6 linked regions of the Homo sapiens genome follow. The protein of the gene in region 2 purifies or fractionates together with the protein of the main gene of each other region. This does not show direct contact. Each region holds a gene or a part of one and is shown on either strand. Other genes may lie near its edges. The genes, in order: BCL7B, CAB39L, PLCB3, ACOT7, EPB41L1 and PUS7.

Evidence for each region.
Region 1: the proteins of CAB39L (region 2) and BCL7B purify together in Homo sapiens (affinity purification with mass spectrometry; one large-scale study listed by BioGRID and IntAct). This does not show direct contact.
Region 3: the proteins of CAB39L (region 2) and PLCB3 purify together in Homo sapiens (affinity purification with mass spectrometry; one large-scale study listed by BioGRID and IntAct). This does not show direct contact.
Region 4: the proteins of CAB39L (region 2) and ACOT7 purify together in Homo sapiens (affinity purification with mass spectrometry; 3 studies listed by BioGRID and IntAct, with this or other methods). This does not show direct contact.
Region 5: the proteins of CAB39L (region 2) and EPB41L1 purify together in Homo sapiens (affinity purification with mass spectrometry; one large-scale study listed by BioGRID and IntAct). This does not show direct contact.
Region 6: the proteins of CAB39L (region 2) and PUS7 purify together in Homo sapiens (affinity purification with mass spectrometry; one large-scale study listed by BioGRID and IntAct). This does not show direct contact.

Annotation. Positions count from the first base shown.
Region 1 is NC_000007.14:73,543,335-73,548,145, forward strand, and holds part of BCL7B (B-cell CLL/lymphoma 7 protein family member B), read right to left. Parts: intron 311-4,811; coding exon 214-310; intron 1-213. UniProt on the Homo sapiens protein: Positive regulator of apoptosis. Plays a role in the Wnt signaling pathway, negatively regulating the expression of Wnt signaling components CTNNB1 and HMGA1.
Region 2 is NC_000013.11:49,349,567-49,354,377, forward strand, and holds part of CAB39L (calcium-binding protein 39-like), read right to left. Parts: intron 1,347-4,811; coding exon 1,178-1,346; intron 1-1,177. UniProt on the Homo sapiens protein: Component of a complex that binds and activates STK11/LKB1. In the complex, required to stabilize the interaction between CAB39/MO25 (CAB39/MO25alpha or CAB39L/MO25beta) and STK11/LKB1.
Region 3 is NC_000011.10:64,261,505-64,266,262, reverse strand, and holds part of PLCB3 (1-phosphatidylinositol 4,5-bisphosphate phosphodiesterase beta-3), read right to left. Parts: intron 4,683-4,758; coding exon 4,598-4,682; intron 4,312-4,597; coding exon 4,187-4,311; intron 4,078-4,186; coding exon of another isoform or gene 4,004-4,077; exon of another isoform or gene 3,897-4,003; intron 3,857-3,896; coding exon 3,702-3,856; intron 3,617-3,701; coding exon 3,455-3,616; intron 2,766-3,454; coding exon 2,666-2,765; intron 2,573-2,665; coding exon 2,468-2,572; intron 2,243-2,467; coding exon 2,151-2,242; intron 1,313-2,150; coding exon 1,159-1,312; intron 1,072-1,158; coding exon 1,036-1,071; intron 954-1,035; coding exon 761-953; intron 378-760; coding exon 224-377; intron 138-223; coding exon 61-137; intron 1-60. UniProt on the Homo sapiens protein: Catalyzes the production of the second messenger molecules diacylglycerol (DAG) and inositol 1,4,5-trisphosphate (IP3).
Region 4 is NC_000001.11:6,383,198-6,388,008, forward strand, and holds part of ACOT7 (cytosolic acyl coenzyme A thioester hydrolase), read right to left. Parts: intron 2,572-4,811; exon of another isoform or gene 2,470-2,571; coding exon of another isoform or gene 2,297-2,469; intron 1-2,296. UniProt on the Homo sapiens protein: Catalyzes the hydrolysis of acyl-CoAs into free fatty acids and coenzyme A (CoASH), regulating their respective intracellular levels.
Region 5 is NC_000020.11:36,226,429-36,230,519, reverse strand, and holds part of EPB41L1 (band 4.1-like protein 1), read right to left. Parts: intron 1,189-4,091; coding exon 1,180-1,188; 3' UTR 1-1,179. UniProt on the Homo sapiens protein: May function to confer stability and plasticity to neuronal membrane via multiple interactions, including the spectrin-actin-based cytoskeleton, integral membrane channels and membrane-associated guanylate kinases.
Region 6 is NC_000007.14:105,459,042-105,463,852, forward strand, and holds part of PUS7 (pseudouridylate synthase 7 homolog), read right to left. Parts: intron 3,710-4,811; coding exon 3,580-3,709; intron 219-3,579; coding exon 127-218; intron 1-126. UniProt on the Homo sapiens protein: Pseudouridylate synthase that catalyzes pseudouridylation of RNAs.

The sequences.
Region 1 (4,811 bases), on a different chromosome or scaffold from region 2:
CTCAGCTAACTTTTTGTATTTTTAGTAGAGACTGGGTTTCACCATATTGGCCAGGCTCGTCTTGAACTCCTGACCTCAGGTGATCTGCCCGCCTCAGACTCCCAAAGTGCTGAGGTTACAGGTGTGAGTCACTGCACCTGGCCAATTCTTCTTATTAATGCATTCATCCAAGTTTTCATTCTCCTGCAAGGAAGACACAGAGATGCAACTCACCCTGGAATTCAAGAAGGAGAGAGGAATTGGCTGAGGCATCAGAAGGAAAGCCATTAGGTTCTCGGGCTGCTGAACTGTTCGATTTTGACTTTTCTTTCTAGAAAAGGAAAAAAAGAGGAATATGACAGAGCCAAGCAGGAGACTCACAGAGAGGGAGGAGGGTGCTATGTGACAGACCACAGAGGTCTGGATTAGGACTGAACAGGAAAAACGACAGCAGCGTGAGAATCCAAGGACCCAAGGAAGAACAGAATCCTGGACAAGCAACTTCTCCTCAAGCCTCAGAAAAATGAACCCTTCCAGCAGGAATACTGTGAATCATAAGCAACAGGCAGATACATACACTTCGACTAGAACATCCCATAGTATCCCTCTCCTGCCCTGATCAAATTGCGCCAGGCAACCCTTCTCTATACGAATGGGCAAGAAATACAAAACACTCATTTGAGAAAGATTCCTGTTTCAGTAGCAGAGTGGGGAAAAAGTGAGAGAAGAAGGAACCTCATGTAACACAGACAGTGACAGGACAAATGGGCCCAGGCTGGCTCTATTCCTGATCCGTCATCCTCATCCATTCAAAACGACCACCCCAGCCGGGCGCACTGGTTCACGCCTGTAATCCCAGCACTTTGGGAGGCCAAGACGCATGGATCACCTGAGGTCAGGAGTTCAAGATCAGCCTGGCCAACATTGTGAAACCCTATCTCTACTAAAAATACAAAAATCAGCCGAGTGTGGTGGCATGTGCCTGTAATCCCAGCTACTTGGGAGGCTGAGGCAGGAGAATTGCTTGAGGTGGAGGTTGCAGTGAACCAAGATGGCACTACTGCACTCCAGCCTGGGCTACAGTGCGAGACTCCATCTAAAAAAACATAAAATAAAACAAAAAATAAAATAAATAAATAAATAAATAAATAAAAATACAAAAATGAGCCTGGCATGGTGGCATGTGCCTGTAATCCCAGCTACTCTGGAGGCTGAGACAGGAGAATCGCTTGAACCTGGGGGGTGGAAGTTGCAGTGAGCCAAGATTCTGCCACTTCATAACAGCCTGGGCGAAAGAGCGAAACTCCATCTCAAAAAGAAACAAACAAAAAAACCCAAAAAACAAAATGATCACCCCATGTTTATTTTTACCTATAACATTTGTTTCAAGAAAGATGTAGGTTATAAGTGCAGGGCAACCACAGTGGGCAGGTAAGCACCAGCTTGCAACAAGAAAGCCCAAGGGCCAGGCACAGTGGCTCATGCCTGTAATCCCAGCACTTGAGGAGGCGGAGGTGGGAGGATCCCTTGAGCCCAGGAGTTTGAGACCAGCCTGGGCAACATAGTAAGACCCCATCTCTACAAAAAAATAAAAAATGAGCCATGTATGGTGGCATAGGCTGGTGGTCCCAGCTACTGAGAAGGCTGAGGTGGGAGGATCGCTTGAGCCTGAAAGTTTGAGGCTGCAGTGAGCTATGACTGTGCACTCCAACCTGGGCAACACAGTTAGACCCTAACTCAAAAAAAAAAAAGCCCAGAGTAAATCCAAGCATATGAAAATGAGAGCATCCCAAAAGCCAAAAGTTTAAATCTGAGTAGCCTCAAATTTACCAGTTCACACTTTTTATACATTTCCGGTAGATGCATTATATTAGTAACGTAATTTTTGTTAATAACTCAATTTTTTGTTTGTTTTTTGAGACAGAGTCTTGCTCTGTCACCCAGGCTGGAGTGCCATGGCACAATCTCGGCTCACTGCAAGCTCCACCTCCCAGGTTCACGCCATTCTCTTGCCTCAGCCTCCCGAGTAGCTGGGACTACAGGCGCCCACTACCATGCCCAGCTAATTTTTTGTATTTTTTAGTAGAGATGGGGTTTCACCATGTTAGCCAGGATGGTCTCGATCTCCTGGCTCCAGGATGGTCTCAATCCGCCCGCCTCAGCCTCCCAAAGTGCTGGGATTACAGGCGTGAGCCATCGCACTCGGCCAAGGAAAGGGGGTTTTCTAGCAGCATCTACTCCTGTCTATACACAATGCCCAAGAGATTTAACTGCTTGACCTTTGACCCCTGTGGGTAATGGCCAGAGCCAGGCTGGATGGGGGAATAAACAGTTGCTCCAGAACCACGCCCCATCAACTCCATGAGTTTGGCATCCTAGAACTTCTTGGGATGGCTGCTCTCAGATAAAGGCAGAGTCCATACAGTTGGTGCTAGGAGGTTCCCTGGAGCCAGAGAGGACAGCAGAGAGCAAAAGGGAGAGGCTGAACCCTGAGGCTAACCTCAACCTCCTAAATTCATTTACAGAAAGGAAAACTGGCCGGGCGCGGTGGCTCACGCCTGTAATCCCAGCACTGTGGGAGGCCGAGGTGGGCCGATCACGAGGTCAGGAGATTGAGACCATCCTGGCTAACACGGTTTTCACCCGCCTCCACTAAAAATACAAAAAAATTAGCTGAGCGTGGTGGCGGGTGCCTGTAGTCCCAGCTACTTGGGAGGCTGAGGCAGGAGAATGGCGTGAACCCAGGAGGCAGAGCTTGCAGTGAGCCAAGATCGTGCCACTGCACTCGAGCCTGGGTGACAGAGCGAGACTCCATCTCAAAAAAAAAAAAAAAAAAGAAAGAAAAACTACGGATCAGGCTTCCGTCCTCCTCGTAGTTACACATTACCAGCCAATGCAATTGAGAGTCCCAAGGGAATAAAAGGTGAGTGCACGCATAAAACTCACCAGAGATTGGAGGAACACAGGCACCCTGATAAACAGAACAGTCTGTACCAGAAGGAGCAGAATAACTGAAATTAAACATGGATTTGCTCAGAAAGATAAGGATAATATTGAAAAGTTGTTTTAGCCAGGGGCAGTGACTCACAGCCTGTAATCACAGCACTTTTTGGGAGGCCAAGGTAGGCAGATCACTTGAGGTCAGGAGTTCGAGACCAGCCTAGCCAATATGGTGAAACCTGTCTCTACTAAAAATAGAAAAAAATTAGCTGGGCATGGTGGCACATGCCTGTAATCCCAGCTACTCAGGAGGCTGAGGCAGTAGAATCATTTGAACCTGCAAAGTGGAGGCTGCAGTGAGATGAGATCATGCCACTGCACTCCAGCCTGGGTGACACAGCGAGACTCTGTCTCAAAAAAAAAAAAAGTCGTTTTGAGGAAGAACCAATTGAGGCAATTTGTTATGAAAAATACAATTGCTCAAATAAAAATTAAGTGAATGAGGTTAATTGAAATACATACAGCTAAATAAAAGATTAATGAGCAAAAACTGCGTTGAGAAACTCAGAATGCACCAGGAAAGACAAGAAATGAAATGAATGAGAGAAAAGTTAAGAAATAAAGCAGTTGGCCAGGCGTGGTGGCTCACGCCTGTAATCCCAGCACTTTGGGAGGCCAAGGCGGGCGGATCACCTAAGGTCAGGAGTTCAAGACCAGCCTGACAACACGGAGAAACCCCATCTCTACTAAAAATACAAAAGTAGCTGGGCATGGTGAGGCAAGCGCTACTCGCGAGGCTGAGGCAGAAGAATCACTTGAACCTGGTAGGTGGAGGTTGCGGTGAGCTGAGATTGTGCCATTGCACTCCAGCCTGGGCAACAAGAGCAAAACTCCATCTCAAAAAAAAAAGCAAGCAAGCAAGCAGCTGCGTGGGTGCAGTGGCTCACACCTGTGATCCCAGCACTTTGGGAGGCCAAGACAGAAGGATCGCTTGAGCCCAGGAGTTTGAGACCAGCCTGGGAAATACAGCAAGACCCTGTCTCTACAAATAATTTAAAAGTTTGCCAGGCGTGGTGGCACGTGCCTGTAGTCCCCGTTACTTGGGAGGTGGAGACATAACTATTTCTTGAGCTCAGGAATTTGAGGCTACAGTGAACCATCATTGCACCACTGTACTCCAGCATGAGCTATGGAGTGAGACAGTCTCAAAAAAAAAGGAAAAGAAATATTACAGGATATTTTGAGGGAATTCCTAGGAGATCAAATATAGAAGAAATGCTAAAGTTTCCAGGAAGCCAAGTAGATCACCTACAAAGACTCAAGCATGGGAATAACATCACATTTCTTAACAGCGACACTGGATGTACAATTCAGTAATAGCTTCAAAGTGCTGAAAGAAAATAATTTTGAACCTAGAATTTCATATACAGGTAAAATCATCAATTTTCAACATGAAAGTGAAACAAAGATATTTTCAGAAAGTTTTCCCCACAGAAGCTCTCTTTGACAAAACTCTTGAAGGATGTATTCTAGCAAAAAGAAAAACAAATGTAGGAGAAAACAGTAAGAAGTCGGTGCATGAGGCTGAGCACAGTGGTTCACACCTGTTACCCCAGCACTTTGGGAGGCCTAGATGGGCAAATCACTTGAGGTCAGGAGTTCAACACCAGCCTGGCCAACATCATGAAACCCCGTCTCTACCAAAAAATACAAAAATTAGGCTGGGTGTGGCAGCATGCACCTGTAGTTTCAGCTACTGGGAGGCTAGGCACCAGAACTGCTTGCACCCAGGAGGCGGAGGCTGCAGTGAGCCAAGATTACGTCACTGCACTCCAGCCTCAGAGTGACACCCTGTCTCAAAAAAAAAAATGTAGGTGCATGAAATTTTAGGC
Region 2 (4,811 bases):
AATTCCTCTTCTCAAACAGCTTCAGAGCTGATTTGGTAGACATTGAAGAAAATCATATCTATTTTATTTCTATTTATATCTTAAAATTAGTTTTCTTATAATTATTATCCCTCCCCAAATAATTCTAGCTAACTTGATCACCCACTTTATACACTAACCGGAATGTCAAATAGGCTTTTGTTTCCAAAACTTTTATCTGCCCTTGAATGATAAAAGTTTGCCATTATTGAAAAATGAGCATGTAATACACATTGATACCAACTTCAAAATATGTTAAATAATAGCAGGATCATAAGCCTAAGTAACTGGTTTTCTAAAATAGAAATCTCGAATGTAACATCACTCATTAGATGACTAAGTTTTGGTATGTTTGTCTGCAAATTAGCTGCACTCTTTTCTGATATATTCTCTGAACATTTTTTTGATGATAAAATACAGAAACCAAAAGTAAAATGATTGTCAGGGGCTGGAGGGAGGAGGAAATGGGGAGTTATTATTTAATAAGTATAGAGGTAGAGTTTGAATTTTTCAAAATAAAAAAGTTCTGGTAGTTGGTTGCCTAACAATGTGAATATATTGCATCCTACGATTTCCTACATAGTGACAAAGTAGATAATACATGATCAAACTATAGATGATTATGAAACAACGACAATATAATTTCTTACTATTTTGTTTCACCATGTGGACATTTAAAAATTTCATTCATAAAATAACATGATGTCCTTCATATTCAAAGATGTAATTCTCCATCTCCCTTCACTACCTAGTTCCTTTCCCCAGAATTAATCACTGTTGCTGTTTCCTATGCATCCTTGCAGAGGTATTCAGTGCATATGTACCTTAAGTGGAAGCTTATGCCCTTTAATCTGTTTTTAACATAAATGACAGCATGCCACACACAGAGCACTACATATTCCTTTCCCACGTAACTGTATATACTGGAATTCACTCCATTTGAGCTTGTGACAAATATTTTGAGTTGTTTTCCTGCAATAGGACAGACTGGCCTCATAGACTGCATTCTATTTACAGATTCCTCTTATGATCCACATCATACATGGTTGGCTACACTGAGGCCTAAGAAGTAAAATTTCTTGCTTTTTAAAATTAAATTGCCTCTTCAGGGGCCAAGTGACTATAAATTGACCTAGCTGAGTTGGAAAAAAAAAATTACCTTGAAAGTAGCAAAGGCATCTGAAGCAATATCAAATGTTGACAACTCCACGTACTTAAAGAAATCTCTGAATTGATTAGAAAAGAGGATGATTTTGGCAAGTGGTTCATGTCGAATACATTCTCTCAGCATAATCCCACAACGTAAGGCAATCTGTGGGGCTTCATATCTAAAGCGTAAACAAGAGAGAAATAGAGAACTCTGTTATCCTATTAAAATAATATTAATGGCATCAAAAGAACCATTTCAATACTGCTATTAATGGAAGCATACATACCATTTGTCACGATTCATTCAATATCCACTGAAGATCTACTATGTGCCTGGCACTATTGCAGACGTATTCTGGAATTTGAGTGTATTCTGAAACACTTAGATATACTCAAATATGAACATGGTGACAGCTGGGGGTGGGGGGATGAGGCAGAATGTAAACAATGAAAAGATAATTTCATACACTGAGAAGGGCTGTAAAAACTGTTGACAATAAAATACGCCACATTATAAAGGTGACTAAATTGTGTGTGTGTGTGTGTGTGTGTGTGTGTGTGTGTGAGTGACTACTTAAGTTACTTTACTTTAGACTCAAGGAAAAGGCAAAATGTTCCAGGCAAAGGGAAAAAACTGTTCAAAGGCTCCATGGCAAGAACAGGCTTGGCGAAACAGAGAAGGAGGAATAAAGCCTGTGTGATTCGATTGTAGAGGAAGAACCGTGAGTGGTGTGAAATGAGGCAGGGGTGGAGAGAAGGGCAGGGGCCAGATCCCAGATCAGATACAGCTTTGTCAGCCAAGGTAAGCAGTTGGTTTTATTTTAAGTGTAATGGGAAGCCTTTGGAGAGTTTAAAGCAAGAAATTGACAAGACTAACTTATGCTTTAAAAAGATCACTCTGGCTTCTTGTTGAGAATGTCTGTAAAACAGCAGGAGACATATAAGAACAGGAGCAGAACCCAGGAGAGGGAACGGGGGCTTGGCCTGGGGTGGCAGGAGCAGAACAGAGGACTGTGGGCAGGTGGTGGATACTGTTCGGAGGAAGAGTCAACAAGACTTGCTGATGATGTAGCTGGAGTTGGGTGAGGGAATAAATTTGGAAACTGAGAATTCACGAATGATTCCTATGTTTTTGGCTTGAATCACTGGGTAGATGGTGGTGCTATTTATTAAGATGAATAAACTAGTAGAGGAACAAGTTAGTAAAGAAATTAAGAGTTTGTGGTTGACCACATTAGTTTTGAGATGGCTGATATCTAAGTAGAAAGGTCTCCTTGGCAGTATGATACACTTATCTGGACTTTAGGAAAAAGATAGGAGAGACCTATATAAATATATGATTTGCATGCAGTAGGTGGCTAATACATAGCTGTGGACTGATTGACTCACTTAAATCCTAAGTGGAATCATGGCTCACAGCAAAAAATATGCTAGACAAACGAAACGTCTACTGTGGGAAACAATTCAGGACTGGCATACCAGATTGGTTCCATTTCTAATACAACAACAATCTCTCAAAGTCAAATTCAGTCTCTAAGTAAGTTTAAGATATATTCCAGTGTGTGATAAGATTTCAAGAAAATGAATAATGCTTAGCCCAAGTACAACAAGCCCTGTATTGAAATAATACAGTTGACAATTGTGTGGTAAATATAGGAAGAATAGAACAAAGAAAGATATAGTTGTGATACACTGGGAAGTGAGCAGAATATAGGGCCCCCTCCAAAAAAAAAAATCTGGTGGGGCGTGACTGCTCACTCCTGTACTCCCAGCACTTTGGGAGGCTGAGGTGGATGGACTGCTTATGCTCAGGAGTTCGAGACCAGCCTGGGCAACATGGCTGACTTTACAAAAAATAAAAAAATAAAAAATTTAGCTGAGACCCTGACTTTACAAAAACTAAAAAAATTAGCTGGACATGGTGGCACACGCCTGTAGTCCCAGCTACTCAGGAGGCTGAGGTGGGAGATTGCTTGACCCTGGAAAGTTAAGCGAGACTCTGTCTCCAAAAATAAAAATAAAATAAAATAAAATCTGACCATATTTTTAAAGAGATATCATTGACCATTTCAACTGAATACTAGTTTTTATGGAACTTTTATGATACTATAAAACTTTAAGATATTTTATTACTCATCAACTACTAGTAACAACATTTGTTGAACAATAAGTAATGTACTACTCTTTATAAGATTATAGAATTTTCATGAAAGACAGATTCAAGAATAAAGATTCAATTGAGGAAATAGACTACTTTCCAATATCAAATTTACAAATATTAGTAGAAGAAACAGCAAACAAAGATACCAGGGTGGTATTTATTCATTTTTGTCCTGTTTATGCAGAATGATATTCACAAATATTGAGTATTCCCTGAATAACTCATAGTAACATTAAATGCTGATACATTCAGATAGTCATGATTCTTTGTAGAATATAAGGAATGCCAATTTATAGTGCTAGCAATTTCTCTTATTAGAAAAACCTGAAACTCAGCCTATTGGCTCACAAGGAACAGTTGTCAGGTGGGGTTTTATTAAAGATGTTGTAAAGAGGGGTATATGTTCTGAAATGTAAAGGAGAAAAGCACTGTCATTTATTGATAGAGTACTCAAGAGAGTATAAAATAAAGGCTGTTGGCCTAGAGAAAGAATCTAAGGGAAGGACAATTAAAATCCAGACTTATTGATCAGCAAGATATATGTGGATTTTTGTAATTTGGCCCTAACCTTAACTTTTCAGTTTCATCTCCCATCACATTCGTTATTTCCCTGGAGCCCCTCATTCCCTCAATTGGAATGCCCTTCTTACATTCCCACAACTCAGATGCTTCTCATCTCTCAAGGCTTAGTTCAAATGCCATCTCCTCCTTGAAGCCTTTCCTAATCACTACAATTCAGGATTATTCTTTCTGCCCTTCACACTCAAATAACAGCTTGTCTGTAATTTCTCTTTAACACTTTTTTCATTCTGTATTATGTTATACTGCAGTAAATTGCTATAGGTCTATTTTCTTCATTACAATCAATTTAATTGTTGGGGATATGTTTTACTTATCCTGTTACCTTCTCCTCTCCTCCCCTATCCCCATCTCCATTTGGTGTCTATGTCATTTATTGCTACTTTCTCCTGTCCCTACCCCAGTCTCCGAAGAGTGCCTATTATAATGTTTTTCACGAAGCATGCATATAATGAATTTAATGAACCTCAAACTGAAGAAATGTCTTAATACTAGAGTACTCTAATGAGAGTCAAACTCTGACGTATACAAAATATGCATCATCTCTGGCCAACATTTTCTCATTTCTTAATTCAATTTCCAAACTAAGACCATCTATAAAAAGTTTCCACTCTAACTTTTGGGTATAATTAGTTCTCTTTTTCCTTTCATTTCGTGAAGCTTATTGAAACCATCTGTGATGCACTGACAGTTTATTCTTGAGAATCAAAAGAATGTTTTTAAAAAACCAAGACTCCTCTGGGTCAGCACACTTGTCATTTCATCCCAGCAGTTTGACATCTGTCATTCTGAGATTACAACTTCTTAAATTCAGAAATACATAGGGATATACAGAGATATATAGGGAATTCTAATTCTCCTCAGTACTCTTTAAGTGATTTATAATTCACATAGATCATTTCTA
Region 3 (4,758 bases), on a different chromosome or scaffold from region 2:
TGCCCTCCTTCTGGTACTAGAAGTCCCCAGCCCTTCCCATAGACAATCCTCGGCTTTCACCTCTCGTTCATCTCTTTCAGCCTCTTGAACTGAGTTGTGTTTGCATCAAGGACGACCTCCCTGAGCCGCTGCAGAGCCTGTGGACACAGGGAGCTGACAGGTGATGCCGGGCTGACGACGGGTCTATCCAGCAGGCTTTCCCTGGCCACTGCAGGCCCCCTACCTGTCTCAGGTGTTCCAGCCTCCGCTGGGCCTCTGCGTCCACCTGGGCCTCCCGCAGCTCCAGCAGGCTCTGCACCTGTCTGTTCTGGAACTCCTGATACCGCTTTGCCTCGTCCTCCCCCTCCTTCGTGTCCTCCACATCAGCGGCCCCACCTCTGCGAGGAGAACCCCTCTGGGTGATGCCTGGGCCCGTCACATGGACTGGGATGGGGAGGGTGTGTAGGGGGGCACATCCTGGCAAGCGATGGCAGACACCATCCCATGGGGCCAGGTCTGTTATGCAAACCAGGAGGCCTGTTAGCTCCACCCAAGTGATGGGAGCCTGTTTGGGCAACATGCTCCTCATGGACTTCAAAAGAGATGTCACTCCCTGGGGGACACAGGGACGCCTGGTGTGGAAAGCCTCCTCCATCCTTGCACTGAACCCTCCTCCCTGGGGGTCAAGGAGCAGCTCTTGCCATCTCTCCATGCCCACCGACCCCCATGTTCACATCAGCACACCCAGCACACATAGCACACAGGCGGCCCAGACACTCACAGGGCACCTGGCCGCAGCCGGCACCTGCCCTCAGCCTGTGCCTGAGCCAGGCCATCCAGCAGGCGGCGGGTGAGGGTGACTGCCTTCCGCTGATGCTTCTTGCGCAGCTCCCGCAGGTCTCGCTCTTGCCGGCTCCGGAGCTTGACCAGAGCCTTGTGACCTCGGAGCTCATCCAGCGGGGTGGGGGCCACCTCTGGGAGCGGCAGAGCAAAGGTGGGCGGGGGGTGGGGGAACCTGCAAGGCAGCCCCCTGCCTCCAGGTACCCCGCCCCCTACCTGAGAGGATGCTGGCGATGAGATCATCACGCTGCCCTGGGGAGCAGAGGCCCTGTGAGGAGCTGGAGGACAGGGTGGGGGGTGCCTCCCTGCAGCCCACCCCCGACCCAGGCCACTCCTTACCTGGGCTGCTGAGGGAGGTGCTGGCAGGGGAGGTGGTGGGGCCAGGGGGCCGGCGGGGGGAGGCATCCAGTGGGCTGGGGGTGGGGTTTGAGGACGGCTGAGACCCCAGCTGCTGAGACTGGGTGTCCTGGCACGTCTCTTGGCCAGCCTGAGCCTATAGGGAGAAAGGAGAATGCTCTTTTCAGAAATGCTGTTCCCTCCAGACCCTTCTGTCCTCTACCACCTCCTGGGTCCCCTAGCACCCCTGTCAGCCTCCCTTAGTCCAAGCCACTGCTGGACTGCTCTGTAACAGGAGGCTGTCTGCATGAGAAGAGCTATAAATCAAGCCTTTCTAAACCCCTTTTCCACATGGGCTGTGGGGAAGATAACATAATGCCAGCCCACTGCATGTGCTCAGTAACTCCCAGATTGTTCTGGAAAGGCCTGGCCCAGCCCCAAGCCTCCTCTCCTCCCCTGCCTGTGTCCCCCAGCCTTGCCTACAGTCGCTCATTTTCCTTGCTGCTGAGCTCCTGATTAAATCAACAGAGGACTCAACCGCAGAGTGGGCACCAGCCTCTCCGCTAACAGCTCCAGGCAGCCCTAATTGCAGTCATCTCTCCCCGCCCGCCTGCCGCAGGCCCTGGGGGGACTGGATCTGGAAGCGCAGGTGAACCTCCGTGCCTGACCCCTCCCCACGGAAGCCACTGCCCTCCTCATGACTCCCAGGACACCACGTCTGAACAGCTTCTGTGGCTTCGCACTGCCCTGATGAAGTGGCTGAGACCCCTGTACCCCCACTCCAAGCCTACATGGAGCTGGAGGAATTCCAGCCCAGGTGTGACCTGAAGGCCTCCTGAATGCAAATGGGTGGTTTTCATCTCCTCAAAATCCCAGGGCTGCCAAGCCTACTGCGCTAGAGAGACCAGAAGCCCCCTCCTCATGTGGCCACAGCAGTCATGTCCAGCGGCCCCCTGGGTCACAGTGAGCCTGAGCCCTGCCCTGCCCCGGCTCACCTCACTCTCCCCAATGAGGGCGGCCAGCTGCCGGGCCCTCTGGTCCATCAGGCTGACGTGCTTAATGGGGTTGATCAGGGCCTCCGCATAGTCTGGGGGGAGGCAGAAGGCCAAGGTCTCAGAGACAGAGCCCCCAGGCCACCCCCACCCGCCACCTCTGGTCTCAATGAGGAATTCCAGAGCTTGTCCTCAGATCTGTTCCCTACTCAGTTCCCTACTCAGTCGGGGCCATCCAGCTCGGCCACTCCCAGGCCCTGGGGGTGGCCCTTGTCCCTCACACTCCCTGGCCAGGCAGGCCCCGCCCACCCCCAGCTCACCCTGGTGGTCGTCAGGAATGTAGTCCGAGGCTTCGGTGTAGATGAGCAGGGCCGGCAGGCACAGCGGTTGGTTGGCCTCGTTCCGCAGGCAGACGTAGTGGTATCCTGGGTGGTCAGGAAGGCAACGTTGGGTTGCTGGGCCAGGTGGGGGCCCTACCCACTGCCCGCTGTGCTGCCCAGAGCCCACCAAGGCCTCACCGGAGCGGATGGCAGAGACAGGCAGGATCCGGTGCCCTACGAATTTACCCCCCTCCTCAAAGGCTGCAATGCGAAGTGAAGCCAGCGTGGGCAGCACCACCTGTGGGCCAGACTGGAGCTGAGCCACAGGGCTGACCCTGGGCCACTGTGGCTACCAGGCCACAGCTAACCACAGCCATCAAAGCTTAACAAAGCAGACCTTCAGACGAGCTGACCTACTGACCATCAGTCACCATTGCCACTAAGCTGATGGCTGACCCCACTTCCATGTCCTGGCCTAATGGATGACTGCAGCCATCAGGACCCTGAGGCAAGATGACAGGCAGCCAGGCCCCTCCAGGGCCCCCACAGACAGTTCTGGTCATTGCCAGTTTAGAAACGGGAGTGAGTCATGAGCAGGAAACCAAGAACACACATGCCCAGGCTGGGAGCAGAGGCCGCGTCCATGCAGGGCCGTGCGGGGTGCTGAAGAGCGGATATGAGCTTGGGGTTGTGACCTCAGCTCCTGCCTCGGAGACAGGGTAGGCTGTGTCCACTCCTCGCAGGGGACACAAGACGTCTAGCTGACACCCCCCAACCCCCATCTCACCTTCTCACCCTGGTCTCTTACCCTAAGGAGGGCAGGGAGACTGACGCTCGGACAGGCAGGTCCTGGGGGACCCATGGCACCCCCCACTTTCTGATCCCCAGTCGCCAACGGTGTGCCTGGTTCCTGTTCTCCCACCTGAGAGTCGGGGCGGTCTGGGCTGGATCTGCCTGTGCCTGGGCGGGTGCAGGGGCCAGGCTCACCTTGGGGAAGTCGAAGGGCTCTTCGTCCCACACGGGGTTGAACGAGTTCCCCTGAGAGGTCCGGGTGCGGTACTTGCGCCGCGTATCAACAGGGAGGCCAAACATGTCCACCTCCACGTAGATGCCCACCTTCCTGTCGGACAGGAACTGCCCTGAGATCACCTGGGGGTGGGCCAAGGAGGGTGAGGCGGATGCTGAGAGTCCTGCCCCCAGGACACCCCTGGCCTGAGCCGCCCGCAAGCCCCACCTTGACCCGCAAGGCATTGGCCACGATGCCATCCACGATGACCTCAGTGAAGGGGTCGAAGGACTTGTCCGGCCGCCGCATGAACTCCGGCTTGAGCAGGTACCCGCTGCGCCCGTTGTACTCAAAAACGCCCGCGTTGAGCTGCATCGCCACATCTGGGGTGCCACGGGCACGTCGAGCAGGGGCAGGGATCAGGCAGGACGGTGCCATGTGGGGAATGGGAGATCATCAGGTCAGATGGCATCCAAGGTCCAGGGTCAGGGGCGGGCTCAAATGGCATCAGGGTCCGGATCCAGGACAGATCAGACAGGGGAGGGGTCTGGTATCAGCCAAGGGCAGGAGGCGGGGTGAGTCGGGAGCTGGGTTCCCCTGGGATCTGGGATGAGACAGGGTCAGAGGTCCATTCAGGCAAGACCAGCAGGATCGTGGGTCAGAAGTCAGTAAGACTGAGGGTCGGGGTCAAGATGGAGGGGGCCAGGGCTCACCGAGGGTCTGGAAGTTGAGCGCAACAAGCTGGCACCCTACGTTCCAGAAGAGCTGGGGCATGTAGTTGGAGGAGTCCACGCGGGTGCCCTTGGGGTAGATGCGGCTGAGCTGCTGCTTGTTGTATCTGAGATTGGTGGTCAGGGGCCACACAGGTGCCAGGGCCCACCCCATCAGCCTCCACCTCCGGCCTCAGCCAGGTGCTCCTGTGACCCCCACACCCGGCCTCTGTTTCTTAGCCTAGCCATGCCCCCTGAGACTGCCTGGATCTGCCCAAGCCCCAGGCCAGGGTGCAGGAGGGCCGCCGGAGGGCCAGCACCCTGTGCAGGTGGCATATGTGGGGACAGAACACCGGAGCCGGCCTCCGAGCGCCCCACCCTGGCCTGCCCGCCCACAGCACCTTCAAAGGATACTCCACAAACTCCATGGGGCTCTTGGTCAGTTGCTCCATGGCCTTGGTCTCCACAAAGGACGACATCTCGAAGCATTTGTTCCTCTCTTAGGGGTGAGCCAAGAAAGGGCGTCAGACCTGGCAGGGCTGAGCTGGGCAAGCTCCCATGCCTGCCACCCACCC
Region 4 (4,811 bases), on a different chromosome or scaffold from region 2:
TTTTTTTTGAGACGGAGTCTTGCTCTGTTGCCCAGGCTGGAGTGTAGTGGCGCAATCTCAGCTCACTGCAAGCTCCGCCTCCCGGGTTCATGCCATTCTCCTGCCTCAGCCTCCCAAGTAGCTGAGACTACAGGCGCCCACCATGACGCCTGGCTAATTTTTTGTATTTTTAGTAGAGACGGGGTTTCACCTTGTTAGCCAGGATGGTCTCGATCTCCTGACCTCGTGATCCATCCGCCTCAGCCTCCCAAAGTTCTGGGATTACAGGCGTGAGTCACCGCGCCCGGCCTGATGGCAGATTTTTTTAACGGTAAATTATATATTATGTGTATTTTAACACAGTTTTTTTTTTTTTGAGAGACAAGAGTCTTGATCTGTTGTCCAGGCTGGATTGCAGTGGTGCAATAAGCTCACTACAGCCTCAACTTCCTGGGTTCAAGCAATCTTCCTGCCTCAATCTCCTGAGTGGTTGAGACTACAGGCACACCCCACCTACCCTGCATCTGGCTAATTTTTTTTTCTTTTGAGACGGAGTCTTGCTCCGTGGCCCAGGCTGGAGTGCAGTGGCACGATCTTGGCTCACTGTAAGCTCCGCCTCCCGGGTTCAAGCCATTCTCCTGCCTCAGCATCCCAAGTAGCTGGGACTACAGGCGCCCGCCACCACACTCGGCTAATTTTTTGTATTTTTGGTAAAGATGGGGTTTCCCTGTGTTAGCTAGAATGGTCTCGATCCCCTGACCTCGTGATCCGCCCGCCTCGGCCTCCCAAAGTGCTGGGATTACAGGTGTGAGCCACCACGCCCAGCCAACATCTGGCTAATTTTTTAATCTTTAATAGAGATCAGATCTTGCTATGTTGCCCAGGCTGACAACTTTTTTGAATTGGAAAATTTTCTTAATTAAAAAATTTTATCTGAGAAGGGACTTGCATCTAGAATATATAAAGAGCTCTCATCACTCAACAACAAAAAGACAATTACACCAATTGGAAAATACAGGAAAGACCTGACTAGACAGCTCTCTAAAAATACACAGTGGTCAATAAGCACATGAGAAGATGCTCAGTATCATCTTCTCTCATTAGGGAAATGTAGATCAAAGCCACAGTGAGATACCACTGCACATCTACTAGCATGGCTAGAATTCAAAAGATGGATAATAACAAGTGCTGACAAGGATATGGGGAAATTGAATCCTTTTTACACTGCTGGTGGGAATGTGAAATGGTGCAGCCACTTTGGAAACAGTCTGGTAATTCCTCAAGAGAATAACCACAAAATTACCATATGACCCAAAAATTATATTCCTAGGCGAGCTGTTTTTACTCATGCTTTTAATAACAAACATGGGTGTCTCTTTCAACCCCACTTCTCCAACTCTCCGACACTAGGTGGGTGTCCTACAATTCAAGTAAAGTCTGGCACTACCTTCTGCGGTATAGGAAGGTAAGGTTGAAAGCGCTAACCCGCTAATCCTCCCTTGGCCTTTCTGGAGACCAGCTCCCATCCTGAAGCTATATCTAGGGCCCCCAGCCACCAGTTCTCTCATTAGCATACTAGACACTCTTAGGACTACAAAGGTCCCAAGGGCTTGGGGAGCTCCATGTCAGGAGAACAAAAAATCCTCCTACCACCCCTTTCAAAATTGATGGAGGTCATGATCCCACAGCTCTGTGAACATAAAACTGAAATCTACTAGCTTGTACACATTAGTGAATGAATTGTATGGCATGTGAACTATAACCCAATAAAGCTGGCACAAAGGGGGAGGTATGTATGCCCACTCAACAGAGTTTCTGTAAAGTTTAGGAGAAATAAAGTATGCAAAAGCCATCTGTAAGCAGCTCAACACTGCACTGTTAGGATCAGCCAATCGTGCAGGAACAGCTCCCTCTGGCCCTGCACCAACCTTCTGGTCTAAAATCACAGCTCAACATCCAGCCTAGGGACAAAGCAGGGCACGGATGCCAGCTGCCAGCTGTGAGCCAGCACAGCTGCTGGCTTGCAGGAGCCTTGATCTGCAGAGGCCCAGATTCCCACAGCCCAGGGTTGCCAGGTCACCTCCTCCAACAAAGCCCGGGTGTTCCGCTCGTCCCTAGGGGAAGAACATGCCAGGTCTCCACTGAGGGTGGCCACTTAAGTGGGCACTTTCAATCCAGCAAAACACACAGCTCATCCAACACCCGACCCTACTACCCTCCCCAAAACTCCTCCAAGTTATGCGGCCCAAGGCCCTGGCTGCCCAGTCGGCGTCGCAAGTGAGACACCATGGGCACAAAATATTCCCAGTCATCCTACCTTCCAGTAATGCAGGCTCCACAGGGTGGGAGATCAGCCCTGGGCCCAACCACCTGGACGGGAGCGCAGCACCCTCGCCGGGGCCCCACACATCCCTGGCCAGCCACCAGCCTCCTGGAAGATGCCTGCCTCCCAAACTCACAGAGCCGGAGAGCCCTGGCAAGCAGCTTCATCCTGCGGTAAGTGGGCAAACTGTTTACCCAGTGACAAGTATGATGCCCAGCAGAGCCCAAGCCTGTGTCTGCCTGGCCGGCTCAGCAGTGAGCCGGTGTGATCCCTCCCTGATAGAAAGCACCAGGCTCCTGCTCCTCCTAGGACCGCCCCTCCCCCACCAGCCCCCGGCAAGCCGCCTCCTCGGCTTCCGGAACTGGATCACAGGATGTTCTCTACAAAAGACCAGTGATGCAAGGAATCCATGACTCGGCCTGAACTCACAGACAGGGAAACAGGACAGGGCCACCACCCCTCTGCGGGAGAGGATGAACTGGGTGGGGCCACAAGCAACACTCATAAGGGTTCCCACCTCCAGGACCTTAAACCTCGCACCACTCAGGCTGGCCCTCAGGCAAGTAGAAGAATGAGTTCCACCTGGGCGGAGTTCCACCTGGGCAGAGAGGTCTTGGCTCACAGGCACCGGGAGAGCTGGAAGGCTGCGGGGAAGCCGAGGAAGGCCAACACACCGCACAACACGGCAGGTGCCTGGCCCTCCTCTGACAGTGGCCCTCAAGCTCCAGGAGGGCCGAGGAAAATGCAGATTCCTGGGCCTACCCCTCCCTGACCTTCCCCGCCCCTGGAGTTAGAGGCAGTAGCTCTGGGGTGGAGGCTCAGGAGCCTGGTTTTCTTTTTATTCTTCATTGTGGTAAACATCAAATGCTTACAAGAGTAGAGGGAGGAGGGAGTGAACCCCTATGTCCCCATCAAGCAGCCCCAAAACAGTCAGCTCAGGGCACCTCTGGTCTCTGCTCCCACCTGCTCCCCATGCCAGGTTATTCTGCAGCAAATCCCGGATTTCCCAGTACGACATCGTAAATATGTCTGCATTTCCTCTCAAAGATAAAAGCTCCTTGTGAAAAACCTAAAGGAGGGGTATGGTGACTCATGCCCACAATTCCAGCACTTTGGGAGGCCGAGGTGGGAAGATCACTTGAGCCCAGGAGTTCAAGACCTGCCTCGGCAACAAAGTGAGATCATGTCTCTACAAAAAATCTTTTTAACATTAGCCAGGCACAGAGGCGTGCACTCGTAGTCCCAGCTACTCGAGAGGCTGAGGTGGGAGAATCCCTTGAGCCCAGAAGGTTGGGGCTGCAGAGAACCATGATTGCACCACTGCACCACTTAGTTGCCTGGCCAACTAAGCGAGACCCTGTCTCAAATAAAAATAAAAACCACAAAACAAAGATCTCATCTAAAATATCATCCAAATTCCTAATATCATTAAATAGCAAGTGACTTCACGTTTCTGTCCTAAATGAATTGAAATCTGCATTTGTGAACTTCATTCACAAGATCCCAAGTCTCTGTGGCCTGGTGAAGAGAAACTGCAGTGTGCAGGGAACAGGGTAATACAGGGCTACGGGGACACAGGAGCGAGGCCCAGCACTGAGCTCGATCCGGTTCCATCGACACGAAATTCTAGAAGAGGCACAGCGAGTGAGTGAAAGCAGATCTTTTTGCCAGGGGCCAACAGTAGGGGAATTTTGGGAGTTTGGAAATATTCGACATCACAACTGGGCCCGCCACTACTCAGTGTGCACACTCATCAAAACTCAGCAAACTGTACGTTTCAAATATTCTTGTGTATGCATTCTAAATCTATCTCAATAAAGCTGGTTTAAAAAAGCAAACTACAAAACAATTATCCTACCTTAAAAAAAAAAGCAGTGATTCCTTAAAATCATTATCAAGGGACTATTCAAGTTTCCCCATTATCTCCTCAATCTTCATCTTGTTGACTCTCTGCTGAAGTACTGTTCACATGCAGAAAACCCATATTTGTAACAGACTTCCCCAGTTATTCCCATGCAGGGGTCCAAGGATGGGGAGGCACATCCTTGATCCCCCTCCCCAGGAGGGCTCTGAGAGTGAGAGGCCAAGGGGTGGGATGGCAAGACAGCCTATGGGGTCACCCCCTGGTGCAGGCTACACAGGCCAGGTGGGTCACACAGGAGAAAGCCACTTCTGGTCTGACCAGAACTGGGGAGCCAGCTAGCTGCAGGTGCCAATTCCAGGGCAATGCCAGGCTAAGTGGCCCACTTACAGCGTGAGGTTGGACAGTGGGTAGACAAAGGCCTCCCCACGCACAGGCTCTCTGGGTTACAAAGACTGCATCTTCACCCAGGGTCCACACATCCCAGCAGCAAGAGAGCCAGCACTGTAAATCATTTTGCGGAATGCTCCAGAATACAAGCTCTGAGTGTGGCTTCTGTAAATCAGGTTCTTTGTTTTTTTTTTTTTCTTTTTTTTTGAGACGGAGTTTTGCTCTTGTTGCTCAGGCTGGAGTGCAATGGCACAATCT
Region 5 (4,091 bases), on a different chromosome or scaffold from region 2:
TCCCCACCAATCAACCAATTACAAACACCACACACAGTATTACTACACTGAACCCGTCAGCCCCTACTGTGAGCCAACCCACACCCAGAGTCCAGGTCTCCTTAGCTGGGCCAGTTCAGTGAGATCTAGGAACCTCAGGATACATCAATCACAGTCAGATAATTATAATTTTAGAATGTCAGCTTCATACTTACCAGCACTGTTTATTTTAATATTTTTTCCTGTTATATGTAATATACATAACTTCAAAGCACATCCGTACAAACCTCCTACAAGCTGCACCTTCATAATGAGAAACCATAAGCATACAATGTCTACTTCCCTTCCTGTGGCTTCGTTTTCTGTTCTTGCTTTCTTTTCTTTTTCTCATTTCAAAGGAGAGTCATCTGCAGTGGCCCTCAGAAGGACCAGGACACAGAGGGTGAAGGGTGTGGGGTGGGGGAAGGGGGAAGGGGGAGGAGGGAGCCGAGACAGAAAATGACAGCAAGACATTGAGAGTTGAGGGTGAGGGGAGGCGGGAGAGAGGAAGGTAGGTTTTGCAGCCCAGTGTCAAGATCCAGAAAGTAAGAATCCAGTGTTCCTCCTCTTTCTTTCCAAGTGGGGAATTTTCTTTTTTTCTCGGAAAATGGTTGACTGTGCGTGTCTTGCTGCTGTGACTTCTCTTGCTTTGCTGTGCAAGTGTTTTCCTTTGCATTCAAGTGGGCCTTAGAGATGCTGGAGAAGAACAAATGGAATTGCTCGTCTGCTAACTGTAACGTGCAGAACCAGGGCGGGAGGGACTTCTACAATCATCGTGGTCTGGCTTGCGTTTCTTATTTGGCGGGGGAAAGGGGTGAGCAAGGGATTATAGTTATTATATAATTTTTTTTCTTGAAAAAAATCCCACCAGTTCTTCAATTTGTCTGCAAAGGAAATGTAGGTGTTCAGATGTCGGTTGTTGCTGTCAGCCAACTGCTCTGCCAGCCCCAGCAGCAGTGCAAGGATGCGGTGTTTCCTGTATATATATCTATATCTCTATATATCTATATATATATGCTTTTCCCTTCCCAGTCTCTCATCAGTGACAGTACGTCGCAGCTGGGACGTCAGTGTTGCGTCGGAGAATCCAGAATGAAGGCCCCTTCTTAATGGTTCTCTGGCTTGGGTTGGACCAGAAATGCCAGGATCTCTTCACAGAGGTCAGGATTCCTGGAAGCCAGAGGCATGGGGTAGAATGGGGGGTGGGGAGTGGGGGGAAAGGAAGGAAGAGGACAAGAAAAATTAGTAACTTCTGTCACTTGTTTTAAAATACATGGCAAGAGGTTGTTTTTGCTACCCTTTACCATATGCCCTTTATTGTGACTCAGCAAGGTAGAGTGACTTGCACCTGTAATCCCAGCTACTTGGGAGGCTGAGGTGGAAGGATCTCTTGAGGTGAGAAACTCAAGGCTGTAATGTGTAATCATCATGCCTGTGAGTAGCTATTGCACTCCAAGGCCACGCAGCTTGTGTGTGGCAGCAGAGAACCGAACCCACATCTGTTGGATTCCAGAGCCCATGTGTGTTTGCTCGCTTGTTTCCAGGGAGGTGGTAATCTTTTACTTTGGCCTGACAATGTGTTAAAATGTCCTTTAACACCGAGAAGCTAAGATCATCATCATTTTACTTTTTCTTCCTATCTTGTCAGCTCTAAGAAATGTTTAGTCACGATTGCAGATGTTCTTTTTTCATTTGGTTTTCCTTTCTGTTGTCCGTGGGCTTGCTGTGTCCTGGAGATTAAACCACAGACAGCAGTGTTTAAATAAAGAAATGAAGTCTGGATTCCAGGTTTGGCTCCAAAACTCAGTGTTTAAAGGAGCAGGCTCTGAAATCAGACTCCCTGAGTTCAAATCCCACTCTATGGGCCTGCTAGCTCTGTAATCTTGGGTGAGTTTCTTAACTTCCTTTACTTTAAACAGTTTTTAACAGACGAGTCTTACTATGTTGCTCAGGCTGGAGTGCAATAGCTATTCACAGGCACAATCAATGCACATTACAGCCTTGAATTCCTGGCTGCAAGTGATCCTTCTGCCTCAGCCTCCCAAGTAGCTGGGATTACAGGTGCACGCCACAGTGCCTGGCAAGTTTCTTAACTTCTTTAAGCCTCAATTGCTTCCTCCGTAAAATAGGTTCTGCCTCCCATTATAGGGAGGAACTGAAGCAAGGGCCCAGCATATAGTAAGTGCTGAATAAATACTGGCTGTTCTTATTATGATGATTGTTGCTGTTGTTAATTTAACCACACACTACTCTGATCTCCTTGAGGGTAAGGGCTATCTTTTAACTCTTGTCTTTCCAGTGTTCAACACTGTGCCTGGCACATAGCAACTACTCAAAACCATTTAATGGATGAAACATCATTTCTGCTACTTGCATGCAGTCGAGTGCTAACGGAATCACAGAAAATGGATCTTTCTTGGCTCATTTGACACATAGGAAAACCGAGGCCCAGAGGCTTCAGGCTTAGTAAGTTGGCAAAACCAAGACTAAAACCCAAGGTTCCTGTTTTGGAACAGGTCAATTTTTTCCCATTAAATTTTGGAAGGTTAGGAAGCTAGGCAAGTGCTGCCCTCTTGCTGGTGGTGTTTGGGAGACAGGTCCTCTCTGAAGGAGGTGGGCCAGTGGGAGAAGATGGAGCAGAAACCAGACGTCTGACCTGCAAGGTTGCAGGGAGAGAAGGGAAAAGGTTCTGTGTGACATGAGTGACTTTCCACGCTCATAGCAAGAACTTCAAGAAGGAAGAACTTTAAGAAGGAAGACAGAGTTAACTGAAGCAGGGACAGATGTTTCTGGAGGATTTGCAGAAGGAACAGAAGATGAAGACCAGTAAGACAAACACCCTCATGGAGACAGGGCCTCAGGCACCAGGCTGGTGGTGGAGAATTACGATCTGACTTTCTCAGTACTCTCATCAACCTCTAAACATGGAAAAACCTCAGAGGGACAAGGAAGCAGGTTCACCTTGCTGAGCCCCTTCTGTAGGCAAGACACAGATCCAGTATATCACAGGTGTTGTTTAGTTATTACAGCAACTCCAATGTATACATTAATGACATTTTGCAGATGAGGAAACTGAGGTCAGAGAGGTTCCTCTGGGCACACAGCTACCAAGGTGTTTCTAGCTCCAAAACCTAGTTGTATCCATCTATTCCTTCCTTCCTTCGTTTCGTTTTTTGTTTTTTGTTTTTTACAGGGTCTTGCTCTATTGCCAGGCTGGAGTGCAGTGGCGCGATCATAGCTCATTGCAGCCTGGACCTCCTGGACTCAAGCAATCCTCCCGCTTCAACTTCCCAAGTAGCTGGGACTACAGGTGCCAGCCACCACACCCAGTTAATCTTTTACATTTTTTATAGAAACGAAGGTCTCATTATGATGGCCAGGCTGGTCTTGAACCCCTGGGCTCAAGTAATCCTCCTGCTTCAGCCTCCCAAAGTGCTGGGATTACAAGTGTGAGCCACTGTGCCTGGCCCCTGGTCAAAATTGAGTAGAAAGAATACTACTCAAAGAATATTACTCAGTAGCAAAATTACTACATCCTAACTGGGCATTGGTTTTGGTTTGGTTTGGTTTGGTTTTTCCTTACAGTAACAGGCTGCACTTTAAGTTTGTGCATCAATTAATGAAGTGGCTGTCCTATAAGTCAGTGTAATCATTATTCTGGGTATGTGGGATGTCTTCGTAAGCCCATAGACACTTCAGAAGTACCAAAGACATCTAAACAATACAGTGTTATGATTTATTCTTCTTGGTTTATTACAGCACAGCACAGTCCCTGCGTGCAGCATTTTGTTAGCCTATTTCAAGTTAATGGTAATAGTAGTCATAATGAGCTTTTATTAAGCACTCGCGATGTGGTAGGCAGTGTGCTAACTACCATGCTGCATGGATGATCTTGGTAGCCCTAGGAGACAGACGTTATGAAAAGTGGGTGTGGTGAAAAGGTCAAGACCATTGGGTTTTGGAGTCTAACAGATTGGGTTTCACTCTCTAATCAATCCATCATGTTCACAGCTTCATGACTGTGAGCAAGCCACTTAACATCTCTGACCCTCAGTTTCCTCATTTGTAAAATG
Region 6 (4,811 bases), on a different chromosome or scaffold from region 2:
TAAAACACAACAATGAAATCATGGGTGGTGGTAGTGCTTGTAAGAGCAGTTTTCAAAAAAAAATTATGTTTTTGTTTAACAAAACATTTCAAAGTCAACACAGAGCTGATGACTGAGTAAACTTACCAGAAGCAAAAACTGGTGGTGTCTTCCCTTCTAGGTTGTCCACATCTGTGTTGAAAAGTGGAATTTTGGGATCATCATATGCAACGACTTCCCTTCAAAACATATGAATAAAGATAAGTGTGAATGTGAACTTTCATAAAAGGTACTAAGCCACTCATCATCATTTATTTAGCAAGAAAAACAAGTAAGTTTACTGTAAATAATTATAGTTAGGAATCTTGAATAATATAGCAGGGCCAGATTTTATACCTAAGTTTTGCTTATATATATAATTTTTTTTTTTTTTTGAGATGGAGTCTCAACTCTGTCACCTAGGCTGGAGTGCAGTGGTGTGATCTTGGCTCACTGCAACCTCTGCCTCCTGGGTTCAATCAATTCTCCTGCCTCAGTCTCACAAGTAGCTGGGACTATAGGTGTCTGCCACCATGCCTGGCTAATTTTTGTATTTTTAGTAGAGATGGGGTTTCACTATGTTGGCCAGGGAGGTCTCAAACTCCTGACCTCAGGTGATCCACCCGCCACAGTCTCCCCAACTGCTGGGATTATAACGTGAGCCACTGTGCCTGAATATAATAGGCTCAATCCAATTATATTCTATTAGTTATTTAAAAATGCACAACTGGGGCCAGGCATGGTGGCTCATGCCTCTAATCCCAACACTTTGGGCGGCCGAGGTGGGATGACTAAGCCCAGGAGTTCAAGACCAGCGTGGGTAACATGGTGAAACCCCATTTCTTCACATTAATAATTAAAATTTTAAAAATGTACAACTGACAAATCTTTTTTTCTTAGACGGAGTCTCGCTCTGTCGCCCAGGCTGGAGTGTAGTGGCGTGATCTTGGCTCACTGCAAGCTCCGCCTCCCGGGTTCACACCATTCTCCTGCCTCAGCCTCCCGAGTAGCTGGGACTACAGGCGCCCGCCACCATGCCCGGCTAATTTTTTGTATTTTTAGTAGAGATGGCGTTTCACCGTGTTAGCCAGGATGGTCTCGATCTCCTGAGCTCGTGATCTGCCCGCCTCGGCCTCCCAAAGTGCTGGGATTACAGGCGTGAGCCACCGTGCCCAGCCGACAATTCTTTTTAAATGAAGTTGAGAGTCAGTAAACTTCACTTTGCACAGCTGTGATCAAATTACTTACGGCATTTACATTTTCTCCAGACTGGGTGCCACAACCAACAACAGCTTGTTACTGAGAAGGAACAGTTCTCTGGAGTGGGGAAGACAAAGTCCAACCATGTGGACCTCTTGCCTATACTCCAGAGAGGAGGAGGTAAGAGAGATGGAGAAGAGAAGGAAATAGGGAATAAAATAATTTCCTGGAAATAGGCAACTAGTTCAGGATTTCATTTTAAAATTATCAAATAAAGCTTTAGATAATACTGAGTATTAAAATTTGTTTTTGAGGCCGGGCGCGGTGGCTCACGCCTGTAATCCCAGCACTTTGGGAGGCCGAGGCGGGCGGATCACGAGGTCAGGAGATCGAGACCATCCTGGCTAACAAGGTGAAACCCCGTCTCTACTAAAAATACAAAAAATTAGCCGGACGTGGTAGCGGGCGCCTGTAGTCCCAGCTACTCGGGAGGCTGAGGCAGGAGAATGGCGCGAACCCGGGAGGCGGAGCTTGCAGTGAGCCGAGATCGCGCCACTGCACTCCAGCCTGGGCGACAGAGCGAGACTCCGTCTCAAAAAAAAAAAAAAAAAAAAAAATTTGTTTTTGAGACAGGGTTTCGTTTTGTCACCCAGGCTGGAGGGCAGTGGCGTGATCACAGCTTACTGCAGCCTCGACCTTCCAGGCTCAAGCAATCCTCCCACATTGGCCTCCCAAACAGCTGGGACTACAGATGTGCACCATCACACCAGGCTAATTTTTGTAATTTTTTGTAGAGATGGTCTTGCTATGTTGCGGAGGCAGGTCTCAAGCTCCTAGGCTCAAGTGATCCTCCCACCTTGGGCTTCCAATAAAGTATTTTTAAACGAACTAACATAAGTATATTTTCCTCTCTAGAAACATGATATTAAAACAACCAGAGCGGTGTTTGGAACTCACAGCTAATTCTAAGTAAGGTAATTTGCTCAGAGATAGCTCTGTAAGCAAATCTAAGTTTTTAGAAATAGGAAAAAAGTTCACTCTACACATTTCTTCAATAATTCAGTGATGCCAATAAAATGTAAATGAACTCACTTCCCATAACTGTTTATATTCAAAACAGCTTCTTTATTTCTTTTCTTTTTTTAGAGACAGGGTCTCACTATATTGCCCAGGCTTGTCTCAAACTCCTGACCTCAAGCAATCCTCCCGCTTCAGCCTCTGGAGTCTCCGGGCTTACTTATGAGACACTGTGCCCGGCTTAGCTTCATTTACTTCTTGATGATTTGAAAAATACAAAGTAGTAGCAGTAGTGGTAACAATAGTAGTAATAACAATAATAACTAACACTTATGAAACACTTAGATGCTAGGTTGTAAGCACTGAAAAAGTACAGTCATGCACTGCTTAACAAGAGGGACATGTTCTAACCCTTGTCAGGCATTTCATCACCGTGTAAACATCACAGAATGTACTTACACAAACACAGATGGTATAGCCTACTACACGCCTTGGTTACAGACTATAGCCTATTGCTCCTAGGCTACAAACCTATACAGCATGTTACTGTACTGAATACTGGAGGCTGCTGTAACACAATGGTTTAAGTACTTGTGCATCTAAACATAGAAAAGGCACAGGCTGGATGTGGTGGCTCATGCCCGTAATCCCAATACTTTGGGAGGCCGAGGTGGGAGGATTGCTTGAGCAGAGGAGCTTGAGGCTGCAGGAAGCCATGATTATGCCACTGCATTCCAGCCTGGGTGACAGAAAGAACCTGCCTCTATTAAGAAAAAAAAAGAAAAGAAAGAAAAGAAAAAGATAGAAAAGGAAAAGAAAAAGAAAAGGAAAAGAAAAGAAGATAAAAGAGAAAAAAGAAAAGAAAAAAGGTAAGGCCAGGTGTGGTGGCTCGTGCCTGTAATCCCAGCGCTTTGGGAGGCCGGGGCAGGAGGATCACCTGAAGTCAGGAGTTTGACACCAGCCTGGCCAATATGGTGAAACCCTGCCTCTACTAAAAATACAAAAATTATCCAGGTGTGGTGGCAGGTGCCTGTAATCCTAGCTACTCTGGAAGCTGAGACAGGAGAATCGCTTGAACCTGGGAGGCAGAAGTTGCAGTGAGCCGAGATCATGCTATTGTGCTCCAGCCTGGGTGACTAGTGAAACTCCGTCTCAAAAAAAAACCAAAAAAAAAACAAAAGGTAAGTAAAAATATGGTGTTATAATCTTATGATACCACCATCATATAAGCAATCTGTCACTGACTGAAAATTCTTGTGCAGTACATGACTCTATATAAAGTGAAGCAAAAGCTTACAACTTATATGGTAATTCAGTTCTATCTCATTCTAGATGATTACTCACCAGCTAACATTCTGAGGACGAATAATGATCTTTCGGTAGGCCCCTGACAAGGAATAATCTCGAATTTTGTGTCTCATGTTGTCAATATCAAGATTGTCAGCTGTGAGCATTTCCCTGTAGGCTTCTTGAACTAATATAAAATACAAAAAGTTAGTTGAAATGCAGCTTGTCAGTCAAGTTATCCTGAACTAGATTATAAAGAGAGTAACAATGTAAGTTCAGTTAGACTGCCCTAATAAAATTAGTCACCTTAATTTATAATCCAAAATCTGTTCCCTGGAATCAAAATTTAGTGACTTAGTAACTAGGACTACAGGGTGTACTGAGCTTTGGTTTGGCCAATTTTTCAGTTATTTTTGCAACCAGTCATAGTACCTGTGGTGTAAGGTTCCCAAGCCAACTACAAAAGGCCATTTCATCCAAAGTTGCTAAACTGCATTTTATATGGGCTGAGAGTTGGAAGACAGCATATACAGAGGCTTCAAACTCTCTCTGGAAGAGGCAGTTATAAATAAATGTATAAAAATAAGAGACCTTGGAAAACCATCTGGCTCACCCGCGCACCTGATGTAGAGTCTTTTTTATAGCACTCAAGAGAGACAGTTTTCCAGCCTTTGCTTGCACAGTCATTAATGGGGAAATACTTCTTTGTGAGGCATGCAATTATTAGAAAGTTCTTCCTATTCCAAGCTGAAATCCATTTTCTTCTAACTTCTGTTGACGCTTTGGAACACAGTGGATTAACTGTCTTCTTCCACATATAGTCATAAGTACTGGATCTTTCAGCCATATCTTCTCTAGACCAAACAATGCTTCCCTTAGCTGTCCCTCCTTTAACATTTCTGTATTTCCCACCAAACCTTTTATCTGCCCCAGGGTAACAGGCTCACATACAACAATAACTCCAGATATTTTAAGCTTTTTATACAAACTACTATCAAACTGGGCCTTTTCTATCGGCATTTGATCACTGGGCATAAATGTGGGAATTTACATTTATTCCTATTAAATACCTTCTGCAGTTCTTTTTTTTTTTTTTAACATCTTACTAAATTATTTATTGCAAACTTGCCCCTCTATTACAACTTTTGCTAGCCTTCTACTCATTCAGTAACTAATATAAGACATTGAATATGAGGTGTCATACATATTTGATAAATTAATGGATGGACAAATGCAAATACATTGAAATTGTGTTTTTAAAATTAATACTGCAATAGAATATTATGCAA